Homo sapiens: one gene and its partners. The protein of the gene in region 3 purifies or fractionates together with the protein of the main gene of each other region. This does not show direct contact. Each region holds a gene or a part of one and is shown on either strand. Other genes may lie near its edges. The genes, in order: OGA, ACOX1 and RIDA.

Region 1 (7,111 bases), on a different chromosome or scaffold from region 3:
GCCTGAGCAACAAGAGCAAGACTCCGTCTCAGAAAAAAAAAAAAAAAAGAGATAATCGACAGAGACCCACAAATTAGCACACATAAGGCAACAAAGCTCTGAGCCAGGATAGTGGTAGAGAAAATTAAGTCTGAATTTTTTGATTTTGTACTTAAAAACTCTCTATTCTTAGCTTTCCTTAATATTTCCTACGTATGTCCCAGGTTTGGATAGTGTCTGCCACCCTTAGTATGTTCCTTGCTGTGCCTTAAAAGATGTAGGAGTTAAGTGCCATGTACGCTGACAGCATTTAAATTATATTCCCAATTTGTTTTTTATTGAGGGGAGGAGGATGACAATGACTGAGCCAAACAAAAGGGAGACATTAATTCAATAAACAATTCAAAGCAGAGGTATGGAATTGAGAAACAGATGACAACTATTAATATTACTACATACTATCATGACACTTCAGTAGCCAAAATGGGCCAAAATTCAGGGAACTTCAAAAGTTCAGTGTTCAGGCTGGGCACAGTGGCTCACGCCTGTAATCCCAGAACTCTGGGAGGCAGAGGCAGGCAGATCACCAGGTCAGGAGTTCGAGACCAGCCTGACCAACATGGTGAAACCCTGTCTCTACTAAAACTATAAAAATCAGCCAGATGGGGTGGTGTGCGCCAGTAATCCCAGCTACTCAGGAGGCTGAGGCCAGAGACTCGCTTGAACCAGGGAGGCAGAGGTTGCAATGAGCCAAGATCGCGCCACTGCACTCCAGCCTGGGCAACAGAGCGAGGCTCTGTCTCAAAGAAAAAAAAAAATTTTCAGTGTTCAGTGTTTTTAACCTCCAGCCCACAAACCTTTAACGCCCAGCAAACTCTCCTCATACTTTGATCCAGCTTAAAAGTCTGTGAAATCTCTTAGCAAAAATAATCACTCTCTCCCGTGTTCACACAGCACTTTATAAATTAAACTATTACAACACTTATCACACTATAGTACAATTGCCTATAAGCCTTACCCAACACTAGACTGTTTCTCAAAAGTAGGAATGGCTGGGCGCGATGGCTCACGCCTGTAATCCCAGCACTTTGGGAAGCCCAGGAGGGCGGATCACCTGAGGTCAGGAGTTCAAGACCAGCCTGACATGGAGAAACCCCGTCTCTACTAAAAATACAAAATTAGCCAGGCATGGTGGCGCATGCCTGTAATCCCAGCTACTCGGGAGGCTGAGACAGGAGAATCACTTGAACCTGGGAGGCGGAGGTTGCAGGGAGCTGAGATTGCGCCACTGCACTCCAGCCTGGGCAACAAGAGCAAGACTCCATCTCAAAAAGAAAAAAAAAAAACTACTTTATTCTTTGCCCCCTCAGTGCCCATGAACATGCATCTGCCCCATGACAGATTATTTAAATGTAAATAATTATCAAGCACCTTACTTAGAACTCTATTAATTAGAGATTTTTCATAAATTAAAAATTAGTAAGCCAATGTCTAAAATAAGACTGTATTCCATTCGGCCAGGCAGGGTGGCTCATGCCTGTAATCCCAGCACTCTGGGAGGCCGAGGCAGGTGGATCACCTAAGGTCAGGAGTTCGAGACCAGTCTGGCCAAGATGGTGAAACCCTGTCTCTACTTTAAAAAAAAAAAAAAAAAAAAAAAAAAGCCGGGTGTGCCTGCAATCCCAGCTACTCGGGAGGCTGAGGCTGGAGAATCGCTTGAACCTGGGAAGCAGAGGTTGCAGCGAGCTGAGATTGCGCCACTGCACTCCAGCCTGGGCGATGGAGCAAAACTCCATCTCAAAAAAAAAAAAAAAGAGTATGTTCCATAAAAGATAAATGTAAGCTGAATCTAAATGATCTAAGTGACTCAAGAGTATCTAGTTATCTAAAATATCCTTTTCAATAAAATTGCCTGAAAATACATTTTATCCGAATGATTCTAGAGATAATGGAAACACTTAAAAGACTGTCTCCTCTAGTACTCAGACTTCAAAGACTGAACCATATTTTATTTTTATTTATTTCATAGGATTTTCATCTGTTGTCCAGGCTGGAGTGCATTTCCTGGGATTATAAGCGAGCCACCACGCTGCTTCTGAATCATACTAAAAAAAAAAAAAACAAAAAAAAAAAAACTAAGGCAAAGAGGTTAAGTGACTTGTCCAAAGACACTCAACCTTTCTTCTATCATATACATCTTCATCAACAGAATGAAACAACATACCATAATAAAACCACTTGGTTTTGTTTCCTCCTTAGTAAAACAAAATACGTTTTTAAAAAAATAAATAAAACTGTTTAAGTTGTGATGACAAAGGAATGCATACTTTCCACTGGCTCTAGTTAACCCCAGCTCTCCTCCCAAGGTGAAAGATCAAGTACAGGCTACTTACTCATCACTACATCTTTTCTCACTCCATTCATGTTTGATTTGTACCAGGTGGCAAGGGTGTGGATAGCAACGTAGTTGGCTTCAAATTCACAATTTGGATTAGTGAGGACTCCTTTTAACCGTGGGATGAGTTCTGTGGATCTTCCTTTGTACGGGCCCAGAAACAGTCTCTTCTGATCATAATCATTAGCATGAATGTTATCCCAGATTACTGGAGCTCTCTTAATAATCTTAGAAACCTCTTCGATGGACTCTACTGGAATTTCTTTAGAAACAACTTTGGGACCTAGAAATAACGACAACCGTTCGTTAAAAGAATCATGGTTCTTGGCTAGACGCATTGGCTCATAACTGTAATCCCAGCACTCTGGGAGGCAGAGGTGGGCAGATCATTTGAGCCCAGGAGTTCGGACCAGCCTGGGCAACACAGCGAGACCCTATCTTTTTATTTTAAATTAAAAAATATATTTAAAAAAAAGAATCATGGTTCTTTAAAATATACTGCATATATAACTTTTTATTGTTTTCCTTACGTGTACTTTTTTTTTTTTTTTTTTGAGACAGAGTCTCGCTGTGTCGCCCAGGCTGGAGTACAGTGGTGTGATCTCGGCTCACTGTAAGCTCCGCCTCCTGGATTCACACCATTCTCCTGCTTCAGCCTCCTGAGTAGCTGGGACTACAGGCGCCCTCCACCACGCCTGGCTAATTTTTTGTATTTTTTAGTAGAGATGGGGTTTCACTGTGTTAGCCAGGATGGTCTCGATCTCCTCACCCTGTGATCCGCCTGCCTCGGCCTCCCAAAGTGCTGGGATTACAGGCGTGAGCCACTGCGCCTGGCCCCTTACATGTACATTTTATAACAACGTTTCTTTTTCTGAGACAGGGTCTCCTCTGTTACCCAGGCTGAAGTGCAATGGAGTAATCATGGCTCACTGCAGCCTTGAGCTCCTGAGCTCAAGCAATCCTCTCACCTCAGCCTCCCAAGTAGCTGGGACTACAGGTGTGCCCCACCATGTCACAGTAATTTAAAATTTTTTTGTACAGATAAGGGCTTGCTATGTTGCCCAGGCTAATCTTAAACTCCTGGCCTCAAGCGATCCTCCTACCTCAACTCAAGCCTCCCACAGCACTGGGATTACAGGCACGAACCAATGCACCCAGCCACAATTTTTCTTTTGAAAACACAACATGTCTTTTACTGAGCTTTATTTTTTTCGTTTTATAAAATAGAAGAGTTTCCTAACGCTGCTTAAGGATGGGATCAATACCTTTTAGCCCAATTCCCTATAAATCTTTATTATTTATTAACTGAATTTTTTTTGAGACAGGGTCTCATTCTGTTGCTCAGGCTGGAGTGCAGTGGCATGATCACAGCTCACTGCAGCCTCTACCTCCCGGGCTCAAGTGATCCTTCCACCTCAGCCCCCTAAGTAGCTGGGACTACAGGTGTGCACCAGCCCACCTGGCTAAGTTTTTTATTTTTTCTACAGTCTCTCTATGTTGTCTAAGCTGGTCTTGAACTCCTGGGGGCTTCCACCTCAGGCTCCCCACTCAGGCTCCCCAACCATGATAGATGTTTTTTCATATTAAGAGAATATGTAAACTTTGTAAAAGAAAGCGTATTTTAACAAGTTCTCTGGGCCAGGTGCAGTGGGTCACATGTGTAATCCCAGCACTTTGGGAGGCCGAAGTGGGCAGATCACCTGAGGTCGGGAGTTTGAGACCAGCCTGGCTAACATGGAGAAACCCCGTCTCTACTAGAAATACAAAAATTAGCTGGGTGTGGTGGCGTGTGCCTGTAATCCCAGCTACTTGGGAGGCTGAGTCAGGAGAATTGCTTGAACCCGGGAGGCAGAGTTTGCAGGGAGCTGAGATTGTGCCACTGCACTCCAGCCTGGGCAACAAGAGCAATGCTCTGTCTCAAAAAAAAAAAAAAAAAAGGCCAGGCGTGGTGGCTCACGCCTGTAATCCCAGCACTTTGGGAGGCCAAGGCGGGTGGATCACGAGGTCAGGAGATCGAGACCATCCTGGCTAACATGGTGAAACCCTGTCTCTACTAAAAATACAAAAAATTAGCCAGGCGTGGTGGCGGGTGCCTGTAGTCCCAGCTACTCGGGAGGCTGAGGCAGGAGAATGGTGTGAACCTGGGAGGCGGAGCGTGCAGTGAGCCGAGATCATGCCACTGGACTCCATCCTGGGCGACAGAGTGAGACTCCGTCTCAAAAAAAAAAGTATTCAATTAACAAGAACAAGCAATTTCTGCAAGTCCTACTTAATTCAACTTTGACTGTATAAATCTTAAAAGACTTACCTGTCCAAAGCACTTCAATTCCAGGTAGAAGCTTTTCACCCACAGTCCTTAAATATGGAGACTGAGACACATTTGGATAACAGAAAGTGCCACAGTATTCTAAATGTAGGGAGAAAAGTAAAAAAGTCAGAATTAAAATGCTCATGGGTTTTCTCTTTGTTTGTTTGTTTTCTTTGAGACGGAGTCTCACTCTTGATGCCCAGGCTAGAGTGCAGTGGCACGATCTCGGCTCACTGCAACCTCTGCCTCCTGGGCTCAAGCAATTCTCCTGCCTCAGCCTCCCAAGCAGCTGGGACTACAGGCGCACGCCGCCACGCCCGGCTAATTTTTTTTTGTATTTTAGTAGAGATGGGGTTTCACCATGCTGCCCAGGTTGGTCGCAAACTCCTGAGCTCAGGCAATCCGCCCGCCTTGGCCTCCCAAAAGGCCCATGGGTTTTTGAATGTGGAAAAAATGTCTGCCAATTCTAAATTATTTTCATCTAAATGATAAAAGGCCTCCTACAAGGAACTAAAGTGGGCAGTTCATTTAAGAAATTCATAAAATCTGGTATTTTTCCTCCAACAGTAGTACAGATCAATTCTTACGATACTACAGTTACTAGAAATACAAGTTTACTAAAAAAACAAGAACTGCAGCATTTTCTACAGAATTCTGAATTGCCTACTTTTCTCAGTTACAATTAAACGCCAAACAGAATGAATTGATAATATCATAATAGAACTAATACAAGAATATGCCAATGGCAGCTGGGCACAGTGGCTCACACCTGCAATCCCAGCATTTTGGGAGGCTGAAGCGGGTGGATCACTTGAGCCCAAGAGTTCGACACTAGCCTGGGCAATATGGCGAAACCCCGTCTCTACCAAAAATATAAAAATTAGCCAGTTTTATAGCCCGGTCTCTAAATAAATAATACAAACTTAAAAGTAAAATTTAAAAAAAATTTTTTTAAAGGCATATACCAATGGCTATTAGTACTCAACTGCAACTTAAACTGTAACTTGCAGCTAATTAATTCCCAGTATAATCTTAAAACTTCTGGGTACTAATGTAGTACTCAACTAAAATAAGGTTCTCGGCTCACAATACACACAAAGAAAGTTAAATAATTTAATCTAAAATTCTTCCTGAACAAGGAAGTGTGGGGAAAACTTCCTGTAAGTTGAATTTTGAGAAGCAACTAAGAGACTAAAATATTTTCAATGAAAGAAACCAGAGGGGCAAAAAGAAAGGAAAACGGGAAAAACTGTTAAGCTTTCTATGCTGACTACTTGAAATAAGAGCCCAGATGGGAGTGGGAGGAGTGCAAAAAGGGACAGATATGCATGGGCAGAAAAAGGGGACAAGTAGGAGGAAATGAGAAGTGACTAAGGTAAAAGCAATGTAATTTGGTTTTTCTCCAGTTTTCATTTCAATACTATCCCTCTTTTAATATTGACAATGTAATGTTCATATACTTCCAGTACTTAAAAATACATAAAAATCTTTTGCCTAGTCAGTTGTCATTTATTAGTTCCTAAAATTTCTCCAATTTAGGATCTTGAAAAATGTCTTCTAAAAAAAGATTCCTACTTTTACACACCAAAGGAGGAGGGAAGTGGAGAGAGAATGGGGCCCATGGTCCTTTATAAGTTATATATTCCAAGAAGACTAGTTAAATGTAAAGCCATTATATACAATACCTGTGGGACAGAAGAGGAAAGTTTCTGGCTCTCCTAGGTACTGATAGATTTCATTTGTGATGGAGACTTGGGCATGAGCAAAAGAACTGAATACCTCTTTGTCTGCTGCACACATATTATGGTCTATATCATCAAAAAGCAAAGCAAATGATCTGCACCCAAACTGAGAAACCTAGGAGAAAAAAAAAAAAAAGAATCAAGAGTAAAAAAATTAAGAATTCCAAACATTACAGCGTTAACAGTTATACTTAAAATCCAGTATTTTCCTTACTAGAATGTTCAAAGACAGATTTATTGTTTTTACATTTTCAATTAAAAAATCGTAAGTTAAACAGTTTTGGGACCCATTTCTCATTTGGGTTTGAATGCACTACAGGCTGAGTATTCCTTATCTGAAATGCTTGGGACCAAAAATGTTTTGGATTTTCATTTTTGTTTTTTCCTGGATTTTGGAATATCTGTATTATATTCAGCATCCCTAACCTGAAAATCCAAAATCTGAAATGCTCCAATGAGCATTTCCTTTGAATTTTATGGAGCTCAAAGAGTTTCATATTTTGGAACATTTCAGATTTCTGAATTAGGGATACTCAACTTATATGACAATATGATCCAACAAAGTGGCCTAGCCTCCTAGTCCTCATGGGCTGCTGCTGATTGTAGAAGACCCAACAAAGTCAGAAAAATACAGAAACATGAGTAAGTAACCTTAAGACATGAAAAAGCCAGGCTGTGTCCTAGTCC
Region 2 (7,111 bases), on a different chromosome or scaffold from region 3:
AAAGCAGAGGTAAAAATCCAGTGTCTCTGCACCTTTTTAAAAGTCTTCACTTAAATATTGAAGCAGGAAAGGCCTCTCGAAGGGGATTTATCTGTGAAAGCTCTGAAAGTACCATGGCCACTTCTGACAGTCACTTTATTTGAGCAACAGGTTCAGAAGGGAACTGGGTTGTTCCCACAGTAACCAGGGTCTTAATCAATTTCAATTTTTGATAACGAATTGAACATTTAAAAATATATACAGGCCGGGTGCGTTGGCTCACACCTGTAATCCCAGCACTGTGGGAGGCCGAGTGGGCAGATCACCTGAGGTCAGGAGTTCGAGACTAGCCTGGCTAAAATGGCGAAACCCAATCTCTACTAAAAATACAAAAAAAGCAGCCAGGCAGTAATGGTGCACGGCTGTAGTCCCAGCTACTCGGGAATTCTCCTGCCTCAGCTTGAACCCAGGAGAACCCAGGAGGCGGAGGTTGCAGTGAGCCACGTTCGTGCCATTGCACTCCAGCCTGGGTGACAAGAGCAAAACTCTGTCTCAAAAAAAAAAAAAAAGTATACACACACACACACACACACAAATAGAATAAAATATACAAAAAGAGAATTCCGTAGTGCTCTTTGGTACACCCTTTGTCTAGCAGCAATGACTATCAACTCGTGGCTAGTTGTGTTTCATCTGAACCTTCATCCCCCTCCTCCTGGGGACTATTTTGAAATAAATCTAAGACATCAGGGCCAGGCTCAGTGATGCACACCTGGGAGGCCGAGGCAGGTGGATCACCTGAGGTCGGGAGTTTGAGACCAGCCTGACCAACATGGAGAAACCTTGTTTCTACTAAAAATACAAAATTAGCCAGGCGTGGTGGCGCATGCCTGTAATCCCAGCTACTTGGGAGGCTGAGACAGGAGAATTGCTTGAGCCTGGGAGGCGGAGGTTGCGGTGAGCCGAGACCATGCCATTGCACTCCAGCCTGGGCAACAAGAGCGAGGCTCCGTTTCAAAAAAAAAAAAAAAACTAAGACATCAGATAATTTTATCCATAAATAATTCAATGCATAGCTCTAAAAGATAAGGACTCTTCAGAAACAACCACAGGCTGGGCACAGTGGCTCACGCCTGTAATCCTAGCACTTTGGGAGGCTGAGGTGGGTGGATCACTTGAATTGAGGAGTTCTAGACCAGCCTGGCCAACATGGTAAACCCCCATCTCTACAAAAAAATACAAATAGCAGCCAGGTGTCATGGCACACACCTGTAGTTCTAGCAACTCGGGAGGCTAAGGTGGGAAGATCGCTGGAGTCTGGGAGGCAGAGGCTGTAGTGAGCCAAGATTGTGCCACTGCACTCCAGCCTGAGCAACAGAGCAGGACTCAGTCTCAAAAAAAAAACAAAAACAAAAACAAAAAACAGTATACTATTTAACATGGCAAACTCTTTATTAGTAGTTCTTCTCTCTCCTTTCCCCACAGGTCCACGAATCTTACAAGCACCTGAAGTCACTGCAGTCCAAGCTCTGAAGTGTCACAAGGACAAGTTTAATCTGCTTCAGAAAGCGCCTGTGTGCAACTCAAATTTTGTGGAATCTTTTTCGAATTCAAATAGCTATAGAGCAAATGATAAATTGACCCCTTTTTATAAATGGAGGGAAAAAATGAACAGATTTCAGAGATTAAATGAAAAAAAGCAGATGTTTTAAGTGCAATTAACACTGAAAGAGACCTGTTAAACCATTCAGAAAAAGCTTAAGAAATGCGATATGACTTCCTTTTGTAATGCTGCTGATCCCAGTAGACTATGACTTTTGATAATTAGCAGAATTTAACTACTGAGTAGTTGATTATTTTCACATTTTAATTGCTAATCACTGGCTATATAAGTGTTTTTAAGCAAAGGTATTTTTGAAGTGGTGTAGAACCCTTCCAAGCTTTCCTGCTCAGTGTTCTACCAGACTTACCCTGGGGCCTGGCTTAAAAGCAGGATTGAAGAAAAGGGACTGGGGGAAGGAAACTTATTGGAAAACTTGATGCGAATGAGTTTCTGCTTGGCACAGTCTCTGCCTGCTTGCTCTCCTTTGCTGATGGATTGCATTTATCAAACTATTCATGCTAGCATTTTTCCAACGAGGGAACTTATTCCGCACGGGCCTACTGTAGGACCATTGTCTCGTGTAATTAGGAATTTTCCATTTGAAGGATTGCTAAATTGTCACAGTAGTAGGAAGTATAGGGAAACCTCTCAGCTGTGGCACTGTTGTAGCTTTGGAGTGCAGAGTGTAACTCTGGGACAATCAGATTTCACATATTCTGTCATCTTGGCATAAGCCATTAAAAGCTTGGAGATTACTGTATTTGGCATTAAAAAAAAATGTCACTTAGGTCAGCACTCCCAGACGTAGCACAGAAAAACCCTTTGACACAAACCATGTGTTCTGATTTTTGGTTCAGAAAATATTGAAACTGTGAGTTGTTTTTTTTTTAACAACTGGGAAAAAACAAAAACAAAAAACTATAGTTAGAAAAATGGAAGTTCCATAGGTTCTATTTCTTACTCTATGTATGGCTTTGTTTTCAGTCTATTTCTAGGAGCTTTCTCTGAATCGCTAATTGTCCTTTCAGTTGAAATCTAATTTATACAATCATTCTATACTTAAAGGTTAAATACATCTTAATTAATTTTTTCTTAAAGTCAATGTAAGTCACTTTGTTTTGTTTTTTTTTAATCTACGCCATATGCCTCATGAAACCAGCTGTTCTAGAATCAGTCCTGAGAATATGGCTTAATTCCATGGAAACATAACTCCTATCTTGGGACCTGACATAATATCTATCTATCCTGGGGAACTGGTAATATGAGACTTATAGGTTACAGCAGAAATGCTACATGTTGACAAAAGCCTTAATCGTTCCACTGGGAGAACTAATTGATAATTGTGTTAAGATTGAAGATTAACCCTGTGTTAATCTCACTTGAGTCTATCCTGACAGTAGTTCAGATTCTGGAAAATGATAAACTGACCTGCTAGATGTAGAATTGTTTCAAAATTAGTGTTGAAATACCTTGTTCACAGATGAATATCTGGGCAGGATCTGAGGGTGTTTGGAATGACACCCCCCAATCCAGTTGCATAGATGGGATGTCTTTGCAGGTTTGAGGAGATCATCGACCTGCAGAGCCCCCTTTGACCCAGTACCTCACGTTTTATTTAAAATCTAAATCTGGGGCCAGGCGTGGTGGCTCACGCCTGTAATCCAAGCACTTTGGGAGGCCGAAGCGGGTGGATCACCTGAGGTCAGGAGTTTGAGACCATCCTGGCCAACATGGTGAAACCCCGTCTCTACTGAAAAAAATACAAAAATTAGCTGGGCATGGTGGTAGCACGCGCCTGTAGTCCCAGCTACTCGGGAGGCTGAGGCAGGATAATCGCTTGAACTTGGCGGGTAGAGGTTGCAGTGAGCCAAGATGGTGCCACTACACTGCAGCCTGGGTGGCTGAGCGAGACTCCGTCTCAAAAAAAAAATCTAAATCTGACATTTGATGCTATTTTTATTAATATTGGAATGTTCTGTCTTGAACTTTATTCAATATAATCAAGAATAAAGATAGAGTAAACGTCACTGATTTGTACTATTAAGAGAGAAAAAATATGCCACACAACTAAACATAGGTTTAAATTATGAAGAAATTTAGAATAGAGGTTTATTAGATTTAGGGAACACTAAGAACAAAAAAGGAAGGAGTGATACCTGCCTGAGTGGACAGCTGTAAATCAGCTGTAATTACTGCAGTTGTACCAATAGTTGTGAGTGGCTCCAGTCACTTTAGGAGTCCTTGGAAGTACTTGGTACACATTTGTTGGCTGTACCTTAAAGGAAGTGGCAAGTCCAGTTTGTTCTCTCTACCACACTAGACTGCCACTGACAAGTTTGGGTCTGTTGGATTCAAAATTTTGTAAGCCATTTTCACAAGTACAAAGATACATTTTAACCTTGTCTTCTCCAAAATTACTGAGTAGGAATTTTATTTTTATCTTTTTGAGACAGGGTATCACTGTCACCCAGACTGGAGTGCAGTGGTGGGATCTTGGCTTACTGTGACCTCTGCCTCCCGGGTTCAAATGGTCCTCCCTCCTCAGTCTCCTGAGTAGCTGGGACGACAGGCACGTGCCACCATGCCCAGCTAATTTGTTCTATTTTTTCTGTAGAGACGGGGTTTTGCCATGTTGCCCAGGCTGGTCTCAGACTCCTGGGCTCAAGCGATCATTTCGCCTCAGCCTCCCAAAGTGCTGAGATTATAGGTGTGAGCCACAGCATCTGGCCCAGAGTGAGGAGAATTAATGAGATTTTTTGTGTGTGTTAGATAATATTGATTTAAGCCTTTTTTTAAAAAGTACTCTCAACCAAATACAAAATTGAAAATGTGAGGTTTAATAGAAATGTGTTGGCTATTTGCAATGGATTTTCTTCTTGCCCAAGTGTTTGGAGTTCTACTTTATGCTCTGTATTTAAAAATTAGTGACCTCAAAGCAGAGTTGATGACACAGGCTTTGGGGCCCTCATGTTCTTGTCTTTAGAACATATCACTACTAAGTATCAGCTTATCTTCAGAACATTACAACATTCACCGTGTTCATATGCTTTCTGAGAAGTCACCACTTGTAATTTCAGATCACATACACCTGAAGGCATTTTATAGTTCCTAAAGTTAACATGTTAGATCTTTTTTTTCCACCCCATGAGGGTCTCACTCTCACCCAGGCTGGAATGCAGTGGTGTGATTGTAGCACACTTTGGCCACCAACTCCTGGGCTCAAGTGATCCTCCTGCTTTGGCCTCCTCTGAGAAGCTGGGATTACTGGTGCACACCACCACACCTGGCTAATTTTTTATTTTTTTTTATTTTTGGAAATAGGGTATGGCTATGTTGCCTTGGGCCCGTCATGAACTCCTAGCCTCAGGTGACCCTCCCACCTCAGGCCTCCCAAAGGGTTGGGATTACAGGAGTGAGCTACTGCACTGGGCCAACATGTTAATTTTTTTTTTTTTTTTTTTGAGATGGAGTCTCCCAGGCGGGAATGCAATGGTGCGATCTCGACTTCACTGCAATCTTCACCTCCCGGGTTCGAGCGATTCTCCCACCTCAGCCTCCTGAGTAGCTGGGATTACAGGCACCTGCCATCACGCTCGGCTAATTTTTGTATTTTGAGCAGAGATGGAGTTTCACCATGTTGGCCAGGTGATCTGCACTCCCACTCCCCCCACACTTCCCAAAGTGCTGGGATTACAGGCATAAGCCACAAGCCACCTCACCCAGCCAACATGTTACATCTTAATTCTTGGATTTTCTTCACTGCAGGGCTTTGGGTGGAGAAATAAAACTCTTCAAATGCATGATCTTGGAGATCCCTGTGAATCAATAATTCTTTAGACAACTGCGGCTCAAAATCCCTCCTTTCCCTTTTCCGAGTTATTCCATCCATCTTATTAGAAAGGAAGTGAATTAGGTGTAGGTGGTCTGTAACACCTGCACATCTTTTTATACGTGTAGAGGGTATGCCTGGGATATATAGGTTGTCTTCAAGCAGTAGCTGCTACTACAGCTAGAGAGAGGAGGAGTGCCAGGAAACTGATGACCTGAGACCAAGAGTCTTGTTGATGTTCTGACTTAGATAAAGGTTTTGATCATTTTCATGAAATAATGCAGGGAAGTCATTTCTGCTGTTTCTTTACTACTCCATTCTTGGAGGATTAGAACAAGTCACACTGTAATTGACTAAAACGACTTTTTATTTTAAAATATTGATGGTGGGGTTTTGCTTTTTTTTTTTTTTTTTTTTTTGAGACGTTGTCTTGCTCTTTCACCCAGGGTAGAGTGCAGTGGCGAAATCTTGGCTCACTGCAACCTCTGCCTCCCGGGTTCAAGCAATTCTCTGCCTCAGCCTCCTGAGAAGCTGGGATTACAGCGCCTGCCACCATGCCTGTCTAGTTTTTTTGTATTTTTAGTAGAGACAGGGGTTTCACCAAGTTGGCCAGGCTGGTCTTGAACTCCTGACCTCGTGATCCACCCACCTCGGCCTCCCAAAGTGCTGGGATTACAGGCGTGAGCCACCGTGCCGGGCCAGTGTTTTTAACTGTCCACACTTACTAAATTTTCCAGTACTTCTTCCTATGGTTCATGATAGTAAACACAGAAACATATAAGGAACATTATTAGAGTTACCAGATGTTAGCTGTTGCATATGTGCACATTCCTAGATTCAAGGGTGTTTTTGCCTTAAATTTAAGTGGGTCATTGGTTGTCTTGGGAAGATCATGGAAAATTCGGGATTTTTTAGAATTCTGAACCAAAATATGTTTTGAGTGTTTCTTAGTAAATGTGTGATCTTCCACCTTCCACATTCAGACTGCGGACTACACTTCATAAATGCCTTTTTATTTCCAGTTATGGATTCAACTAAATGACTGCCTTGGGAGCACATAATTACTTTGCTACCTTTTTCCCCCTTTGCTGTTGTGGCTCGAGTTTGGTTCTCACCTGAGAAGATGCATTGAGCATATGTTGTTACCCAGCCCTGGCTTAATGGTGTCCTGTGGGGTAGGGGTGGGAGGACGAGGGGCACGGGGCCAGAGCATGTGAATGGATCATGGTTGGACAGCTGTGACCTGCCAGCACTGCGGGTAAGCAAAACTACAAACCGTTCTTTCCTCTGTGACATTGAATAAACCTTAATAAAATTCATAATTAGCACATACTAGAAAAAATGTGACTTAATCTTTTTGTGGGGCGACAGTATTGGGTTTCATTCTGGCTATACAGCTTTGATTGGATCATTAAACAGGTCAGTCACTTCCCTCAAGCTTTGGGGTGTGGAATAAACACCGGTGAATTTGTGGATTCACCCGTCAACCTCCCAATATCAACACATTTCTCACGCCTCCGCGTCGGCCACGTGTCAGCCCTCAGAAGTGGGCAGGAGGAACTTTTAAGCTTCCCGGCAGTTCCCAAGAGGGCCTTTGAGCCTGGCGCCCTCTTCCCGGAGAGGCGTTGGGGCAGCTCCTAGCAACGTGCCCGCCGCCGGCAGAAGCCCGGCCCCGCCAACTGCCGCGCGCGGCTCCCTGG
Region 3 (7,111 bases):
ACACAAGCACACATGGTAGCATACTGTGCATGTTGTTCTGCATCTTGGTTTTATTACCATGGAACAATTTACCTCGGAGATCTTTCCACATTACTTTAGTTGTATTGATCTAGCATAATTTATTCAACCAGTTCTTTATGAGTGGATATTTAGGTTTTTAAAAATCTTTCAGCTAGGCCGGGTGTGGAGGCTCATGCCTGTAATCTCAGCACTTTGGGAGGCTGAGGTGGGTGGATCATGAGGTCAGGAGATCGAGACCATCCTGGCTAGCACGGTAAAACCCCGTCTCTACTAAAAATACAAAAAATAAGCCAGGTGTGGTGGCGTGTGCCTGTAGTCCCAGTTACTTGGGAGGCTGAGGCAAGAGAATTGCTTGAACCTGGAAGACAGAGGTTGCAGTGAGCTGAGATCACGACACTGCACTCCAGCCTGGGCGACAGAGCAAGGCTGTCTCAAGAAACAAAACAAAACAAAACAAACTTTCAGCATTATATGACTCAGTAAATGCAGTAAATTATAGTTTATTGTTTTATTTTATTTTATTTTTTGAGACAGTGTCTTGCTCTGTGTCCCAGGCAGGAGTGCAGTGGCACGATCTTGGCTTCCTGCAACTTCCACCTCCCAGGTTTAAGCGATTCTTCTGCATCAGCCTCCTGAGTAACTGGGACTACAGGCATGTGCCACCTGACTGGGTTACTTTTTTTTTCTATTTTTTTTTTGAGACAGGGTTCTTGCTCTGTTGCCCAGGCTAGAGTGGAGTGGCACAATCTCAGCTCACTGCAACCTCCGCCTTCCGGGTTCAAACGATTCTCATGCCTTAGCCTCCCGAGTAGCTGGGACTACAGGCACATGCCACCACACCTGGCTAATTTTTGTATTTTCAGTAGAGACGGGGTTTCACCATGTTGGCCAGGCTGGTCTTGAACTCCTGACCTCAGGTGATCTGCCCGCCTCGGCCTCCCAAAGTGCTGGGATTACAGGTGTGAGCCATTGTGCCTGGCCTCCCCCAACTAATTTTTGTATTTTTAGTAGAGATGGGGTTTCACCATGTTGTCTAGGCTAGTCTTGAACTCCTGACCTCAAGTGATCTGCCAGCCTCGGCCTCCCAAAGTGCTAGGATTACAGGTGTGAGCCACATCGTGCCTGGCCTAAATTATGGTTTAATTATATTTATTGGATTAAAATTATATTCCCCATTCTTATTTTTAAAAATGTTGACTTTTTACTTCTGTGGTGGTAATTTTTTTTTTTTTTTGAAGAGGGGCAGGTCAGTGGCCCTGAGAAGAAAATTTCCCAATCCATGTGGAAGTGGCAACATGTCATCTGACGTCAATAATTCAGGTTTAAGGTCACCTTAGTGTTAAGGAGGTGGAATCTCTCTTTTGGTTGTTAGATGATTCATGATCCATCAAATTTCCAACTCTTAGATCAAAAACTATGTTAAATCAAGCAGTAAGTAGTTTAAAAAACATTTATCTGTTAATCTCTATAAAACAAATCAGGCAAGTGGATTCTTAATGCTCTTCAACATTAAAAAGGTAGTAGAAAAGGGAACCTTAAATGTGGAAAATAACTTACTTGTTTAGCTTCTTCTGCTACCCCTCCTGACACAAGCTGTCCACTTGAAGGGTCCATGCCTATCTGTCCTGAAATGTAAATGGTCCTGTCGACTAATACAGCTTGACTGCAATAAACAGAAAGCTAGTGTATTTATGTAAGTATAAAACATAAAATTCAATGCTAGAAGACTTTTTTGATAGGACAGAGAAGTATAAATTGTAAAAAAAAAAAAACAGATACATTGGACTTCATGAAAATTGAAAACTTTTGTTTATCAAAGATATCTTTAAGAAAATGAAAAGGGGCTGGGTGCTGTAATCCTAGTGCTTTGGGAGGGTGAAGCAGGAGGATCGCTTGGGACCAGGAGTTTGAGATCAGCCTGGGCAACCACTCAGTCTCTACAAAAAACAATAAAAAACAGCCAAGTATGGTGACGCACACCCGTAGTCCCAGCTACTCAGGAGGCTAGGGTGATTGAATTGCTTGAGCCCAGGAGTTGAAGGCTGAAGTGAGCCATGAGTATACCACTGCGCTCCAGCCTCAGTGGCACTGAGTAACAGAGAAAGACCCAAAATAAAAAAAGGGGTCGGGGGAAGAAAAGGCAAGTCATAGATTGGGAGAAAAATATTTGCAAAACATATACCTAATAAAGTACCTATATCCAGAATATAAGAAGAACTCTTAAAAGTCAATAATGTGAAGACAAACCCAATAAAATATGAGCAAATGATACTTCACAAAAGAAAATATACAAAGAGTTAGAGTACATGAAATTTGCTCAACATTAGTAGTCATTAGAGAAATGCAAAGCAAAACCACACACTAAGACATCACTGATAAAGTAAGCATTGGCAATGATGGGGAGCAACCCTCATACATTGTCGGTAGTAATGCAAAATGGTACAGCCACTTTAGAAAATAGTTTGGCAGTTTCTTTAAAAATTTAAACATATATTTAACATACAACCCAGCAAACTCTTCTTTTAGAGACAGGATCTTGCTCTGTCACCCAGGCTGAAGTGCAGTGGTAGGATGTTGGCTCACTGAAGCCTTGACCTCCCAGGCCCAAGTGATCCTCCCATCTCAGCCTCCTAAGTAGCTGAGACTAAAGGTGTGCACCACCATGCCTGGCTAATTTTTTATTTTATTATTTACTTATTTTTATTTTTTGTAGAGATGAGGTCTTGCTATGTTGCCTAGGCTGGTCTCAAACTCCTGGACTCAAGTGATCCTCCTGCCTTGGCCTCCCAAAGTGCTGGGATTACAGGCTTGAGCCTCAACTCAGCAATTTCTTTCCTAGGCAACTATCCAAGAGAAATGAAAACATATGTCCAAAGAGTTTACGTGAATGTTCAGAATAGCATTATTTATAGCAAAAAAGCAAGACACACACACATGCACCCACTGATAGATCCAACAAAGGACTATATATTGTCTTATTTCACTTAAATGAAACCTTAGAAAAGAAAATAGCAGCAGCAGATTATTAATTGTTGTCTAGGGCCAGGGGTGATCATAAATGGGTACAAGGGAATTTTTTGGGAGTGATAGAAATATTCTAAAATTTGACTATTATAGTGGATGCATGATTCTATACATTTACTAAAACTCATGGAACACTACACTTAATTAAAATGGGTGACTTGTTTTTTTGAGATGGAGTCTCACTCTGTCACCCAGGCTGGAGTGCAGTGGCACAATCTTGGCTCACTGCAACCTCCGCCTCCCGGGTTCAAACAATTCTGCCTCAGCCTCCCAAGTAGCTGGGATTACAGGTGTGAGCCACCACGCCCAGCTAATTTTTGCATTTTTAGTAGAGATGGGGTTTTGCCATGTTGGCCAGGCTGGTCTTGAACTCCTGACCTCAGGTGATCCGCCTGCCTCCGCTTCCCAAAGTGCTGGGATTACAGTCGTGGGCCACCACACCCAGCCATTAAAATGGGTAACTTTTATAAGTAACTTATACCTCAATATAGCTGTAAAGCAAAAAAATGCAATTTCAAGAGCACTTTTAAAAACATAAGTAGTCATCTTCAGACAAGATTAGTCACTGCTTATTGGAGGATCAATTAAGGATATACTTTTGAGGGTCCACTTCTGATATGGCTTGGCTGTGTCCTTGCCCAAACCTCATCTGGAATTGTAATGCCCATAATCCCCACATGTTGAGAGTAGGACCTGGTGGGAGGTGACTGGACCATGGGGGCAGTTTCCCCCATGCTGTTCTCATGATAGTGAGTTCTCACGTGATCTAACAGTTTTATAAGTGTCTGACAGTTCCTCCTACACATGTACACTCTCTCTTGCTTGCCATCATATACGATGTGCCTCTTCCCCTTCCGCCATTATTGTAAGTTTCTTGAGGCCTCCCCAGCCATGTGGAACAGTGAGTCAATTAAGCCTCTTTATAAATACTCGGGTTGTATCTTTATAGCAGTGTGGAAACGAACTAATACAACTTCATTTCTGCAAAGTGCTTACTTCTGTAACTGACTTTTTCTGTTATGAGGATGCTAAATTTCAGAAGTAGGATAAAATCACAGGAAAAAGAAAACAATACATTGATACCTGAAAAAAAGCCAAACAAGTCTACTTTTTATAGGAATGATATTAATTTTGGGATGAAGAAAGCCTATCTGTTTTTTTAAAATGTTGAAGAAAGAAGACTTAATGTAATTTTAATTTAGAAGTGAAATGTGGCAGGGCATGGTGGCTCATGCCTATAATCCCAGCACTTTGGGAGGCTGAGGCGGGCAGACCACTTGAGGCCAGGAGTTCAAGGCCAGCCTTGCCAACATGGGGAAATCCTGTCTCTACTAAAAAACACAAAAATTAGCCAGTGGTGGTGCACACCTGTAATTCCAGCTACTTGGGAGGCTGAGGCATGAGAATCACTTGAACCTGGGAGGTGGAGGTTGTAGTAAGCCAAGATCACGTTACTGTACTCCAGCCTGGGCAACAGAGCAAGACTCTGTGTCAAAAAAAAAAAAAAAGAAGTGAAATTTGTTTTAAAATTTCTATGCTTATTTATAAATTTAAGATAGTCTCATTTTAATCATCTTCTTTTAGTTCCCTATTCTTCCATTTTCCAACATGCTCCAAACTTTCCTCTTTTATTTCATGAAGTTTTCCTGGTCTTCTTGACCACATCTTTTTTTTCCCTTTATAATTTATTTTTGAATAGGAGTTCATATGGTTCAAAAATCCAGAAAATACACAAAGAATTGCAGTGAAAAGTCTTTCTTCCATTCTTGTTCCCTATTTGCTCAGTTCCCAGCCCAGAACCATTGTTCTTCTTTATGTATTCATCCAGTTTTTTTAATGAACAGATAACCAAAACAAATATATATTTTCTCTCTTCTTTTACATAAAATATGGTATATTAAACATTCTTGTACACTTTGTTTTTTTCACTCAACAGAATATCATGAAGATCTTTCCATAAGTATATGTAGAGTGCTTCCTCATTTTTTTTAACAGCTACATATGTTTTACAATATAGATGTACTTTATTTAATGAGTCACCATTGCTTCTGATATTTTGTTATCATAAATAAAACTATACTAAACACACACACACACACACACACACACACTTTCTCTAAGTAACTAAGCTTTTCTTTCCCCTGGATCCCAGGAGTGCTTTGGTTGTATCTTCCTTATACTATGTACAGGATCCTGCCTCGTGTTGTAACTCATCCTGTTATTATCCTGTCTCCCAAGGTATCTTAGACTCTAAACTCCTTGAGGTCAGGGTAATGTCTTACCATGTCTCTGTAGCTGTGTAGGGTGTAGGTGATTCCTTGCATACAGTAGGCACACTATAACTACTTGCTGATGTTTTGCTCTTTAACCACTTAGTAGCATAAACAATTTTGGTTGTCAGTGAATCTCTTTTTAGCAGGACCTGTTGACTTACAGCAAATGCTTTGGAGAGAGCTAAGGAGGTATGTTTAAACTTGATAACATGATTCAGAAAGTCTAGAAAGTCTTCTCAACTATCTGGCTTTCATACTGGCCCACAAATAGATAACTACTGAGTTTGTTAATTTGTAATCTTTTCTCGGGTTAAATAATACCATCAGTAACACTGTTTTTTATTAACTGTCCTGTGTAGAATTAGGCCGTCTGCCCTAGGTCCTGTGCAAAGTGCCTTCAGCTTTCCCCATATCTGAAACACACTTTAAGACCATATGCATTATTATTTATCAGAAACTTCATGATAGTAAAAAGAAACTCTTTTATTTTCAAAATATAAAAAGCAAGCACTGGAGCTGAGACCATCTGAGCTATGTGAGTTATCTCTTACAGATCTAAAGAGGTTTGTTCATAAGAATAATTGGCTAGTTGACACTTTCTGAGCATAAGAATCCTACTATCCAAAGACAAGTGGTTGGACTTCAGAAAATTTAAAAGTGCACTGTTCTACTACCAGGTTAAAGGGTAATCACACTTTCAAAAGCATTCTAATAATTCTCACATCATAGTCTATACCACACGGGCTACTGCTTCAAAAATTTATAATTATGAGGACGGTGTGCAAAATGCGCAATGCAAAGCAATGCAATGTTGAAATCTTTCAAGGTTCTGTCTGGAAGTATTCCTGAAATGTGCTGAGCTGATTGGCTAATTAGTGACAACACCCCATCCATCCCAATGCCAGGGACTGAAAGTTCAACACATTTGAATTCTTCCTGGAGAGGACCCAGGATTTTCAAAAAGTGTACTCACTACACACTCCACGCACAAAAACTCTTGTTCCCAAAAGGTTCCTAAAACATGTCCAATTAACATAAGTAGTTAGTTGCAGTCTGTTTTTTTTCTTAAACATTAACTATTGAAAATAAGCACCATTTCTAGTCACCTAGTGCACAAGAGGCACAATGTCCTGGAAGTCTCCACACCATGAAGCTGGCTGGTGGCTTTTTTTCTTGTCATACTGGCACATTCATATGATGATTCCCCTCTTTTTAGCTTTCAGCTTTATAAAGACAGTTGACTCCCACCTACCTTCAAGTCAACCAGGAACATTACTGTTATGCTTTCTTTCCTGAACAAAGTCCACAGAGTATCTCTAAATAGGTCAAGGAAGGGGTATGCTCTTTAGCAGGCTCCAGGACAAAGTGTCTCTAATAATCACTTTGATTTGGTTGTGTCCCTCTTGTTTGGAGGTAAAGATGTTTTTCTAAATGCTACCACTGTGTGATTGAGAGAAAGACATTAGGGCAGAAGGAGAAAAAAAATCACAAATTTTTACTTATAATATCCCCTAACTATTCTCACTTTCTTTACCTCCAAATTTCTATCAGAATTACTATCAGAATTCTTTTTAAAAGATCTGATCATGTTCCACCCTGCTTAAAAACATTTAGCCTGGGCAACATGGTAAAACCCCAGCTCTATAAAAAATACAAAAATTATCTGGGCATGGTGGCCTGAGCCTGTAGCCCCAGCTACTTGGGAAGCTGAGGTGGGAGGATGGCTTGAGCCCGGGAGGTTGAGGCGACAATAAGCTGTGATCCCGGCTCCAGCCTGGGTGACACAGCGAAAC

Evidence for each region.
Region 1: the proteins of RIDA (region 3) and OGA purify together in Homo sapiens (affinity purification with mass spectrometry; 2 studies listed by BioGRID and IntAct, with this or other methods). This does not show direct contact.
Region 2: the proteins of RIDA (region 3) and ACOX1 purify together in Homo sapiens (affinity purification with mass spectrometry; 2 studies listed by BioGRID and IntAct, with this or other methods). This does not show direct contact.

The regions. Positions count from the first base shown.
Region 1 is NC_000010.11:101,801,363-101,808,473, forward strand, and holds part of OGA (protein O-GlcNAcase), read right to left. Parts: intron 6,540-7,111; coding exon 6,368-6,539; intron 4,782-6,367; coding exon 4,683-4,781; intron 2,658-4,682; coding exon 2,373-2,657; intron 1-2,372.
Region 2 is NC_000017.11:75,941,149-75,948,259, reverse strand, and holds the end of ACOX1 (peroxisomal acyl-coenzyme A oxidase 1), read left to right. Parts: coding exon 1-9; intron 10-1,464; coding exon 1,465-1,512; 3' UTR 1,513-6,753; downstream 6,754-7,111. UniProt on the Homo sapiens protein: Involved in the initial and rate-limiting step of peroxisomal beta-oxidation of straight-chain saturated and unsaturated very-long-chain fatty acids.
Region 3 is NC_000008.11:98,107,068-98,114,178, forward strand, and holds part of RIDA (2-iminobutanoate/2-iminopropanoate deaminase), read right to left. Parts: intron 1,685-7,111; coding exon 1,579-1,684; intron 1-1,578. UniProt on the Homo sapiens protein: Catalyzes the hydrolytic deamination of enamine/imine intermediates that form during the course of normal metabolism. May facilitate the release of ammonia from these potentially toxic reactive metabolites, reducing their impact on cellular components.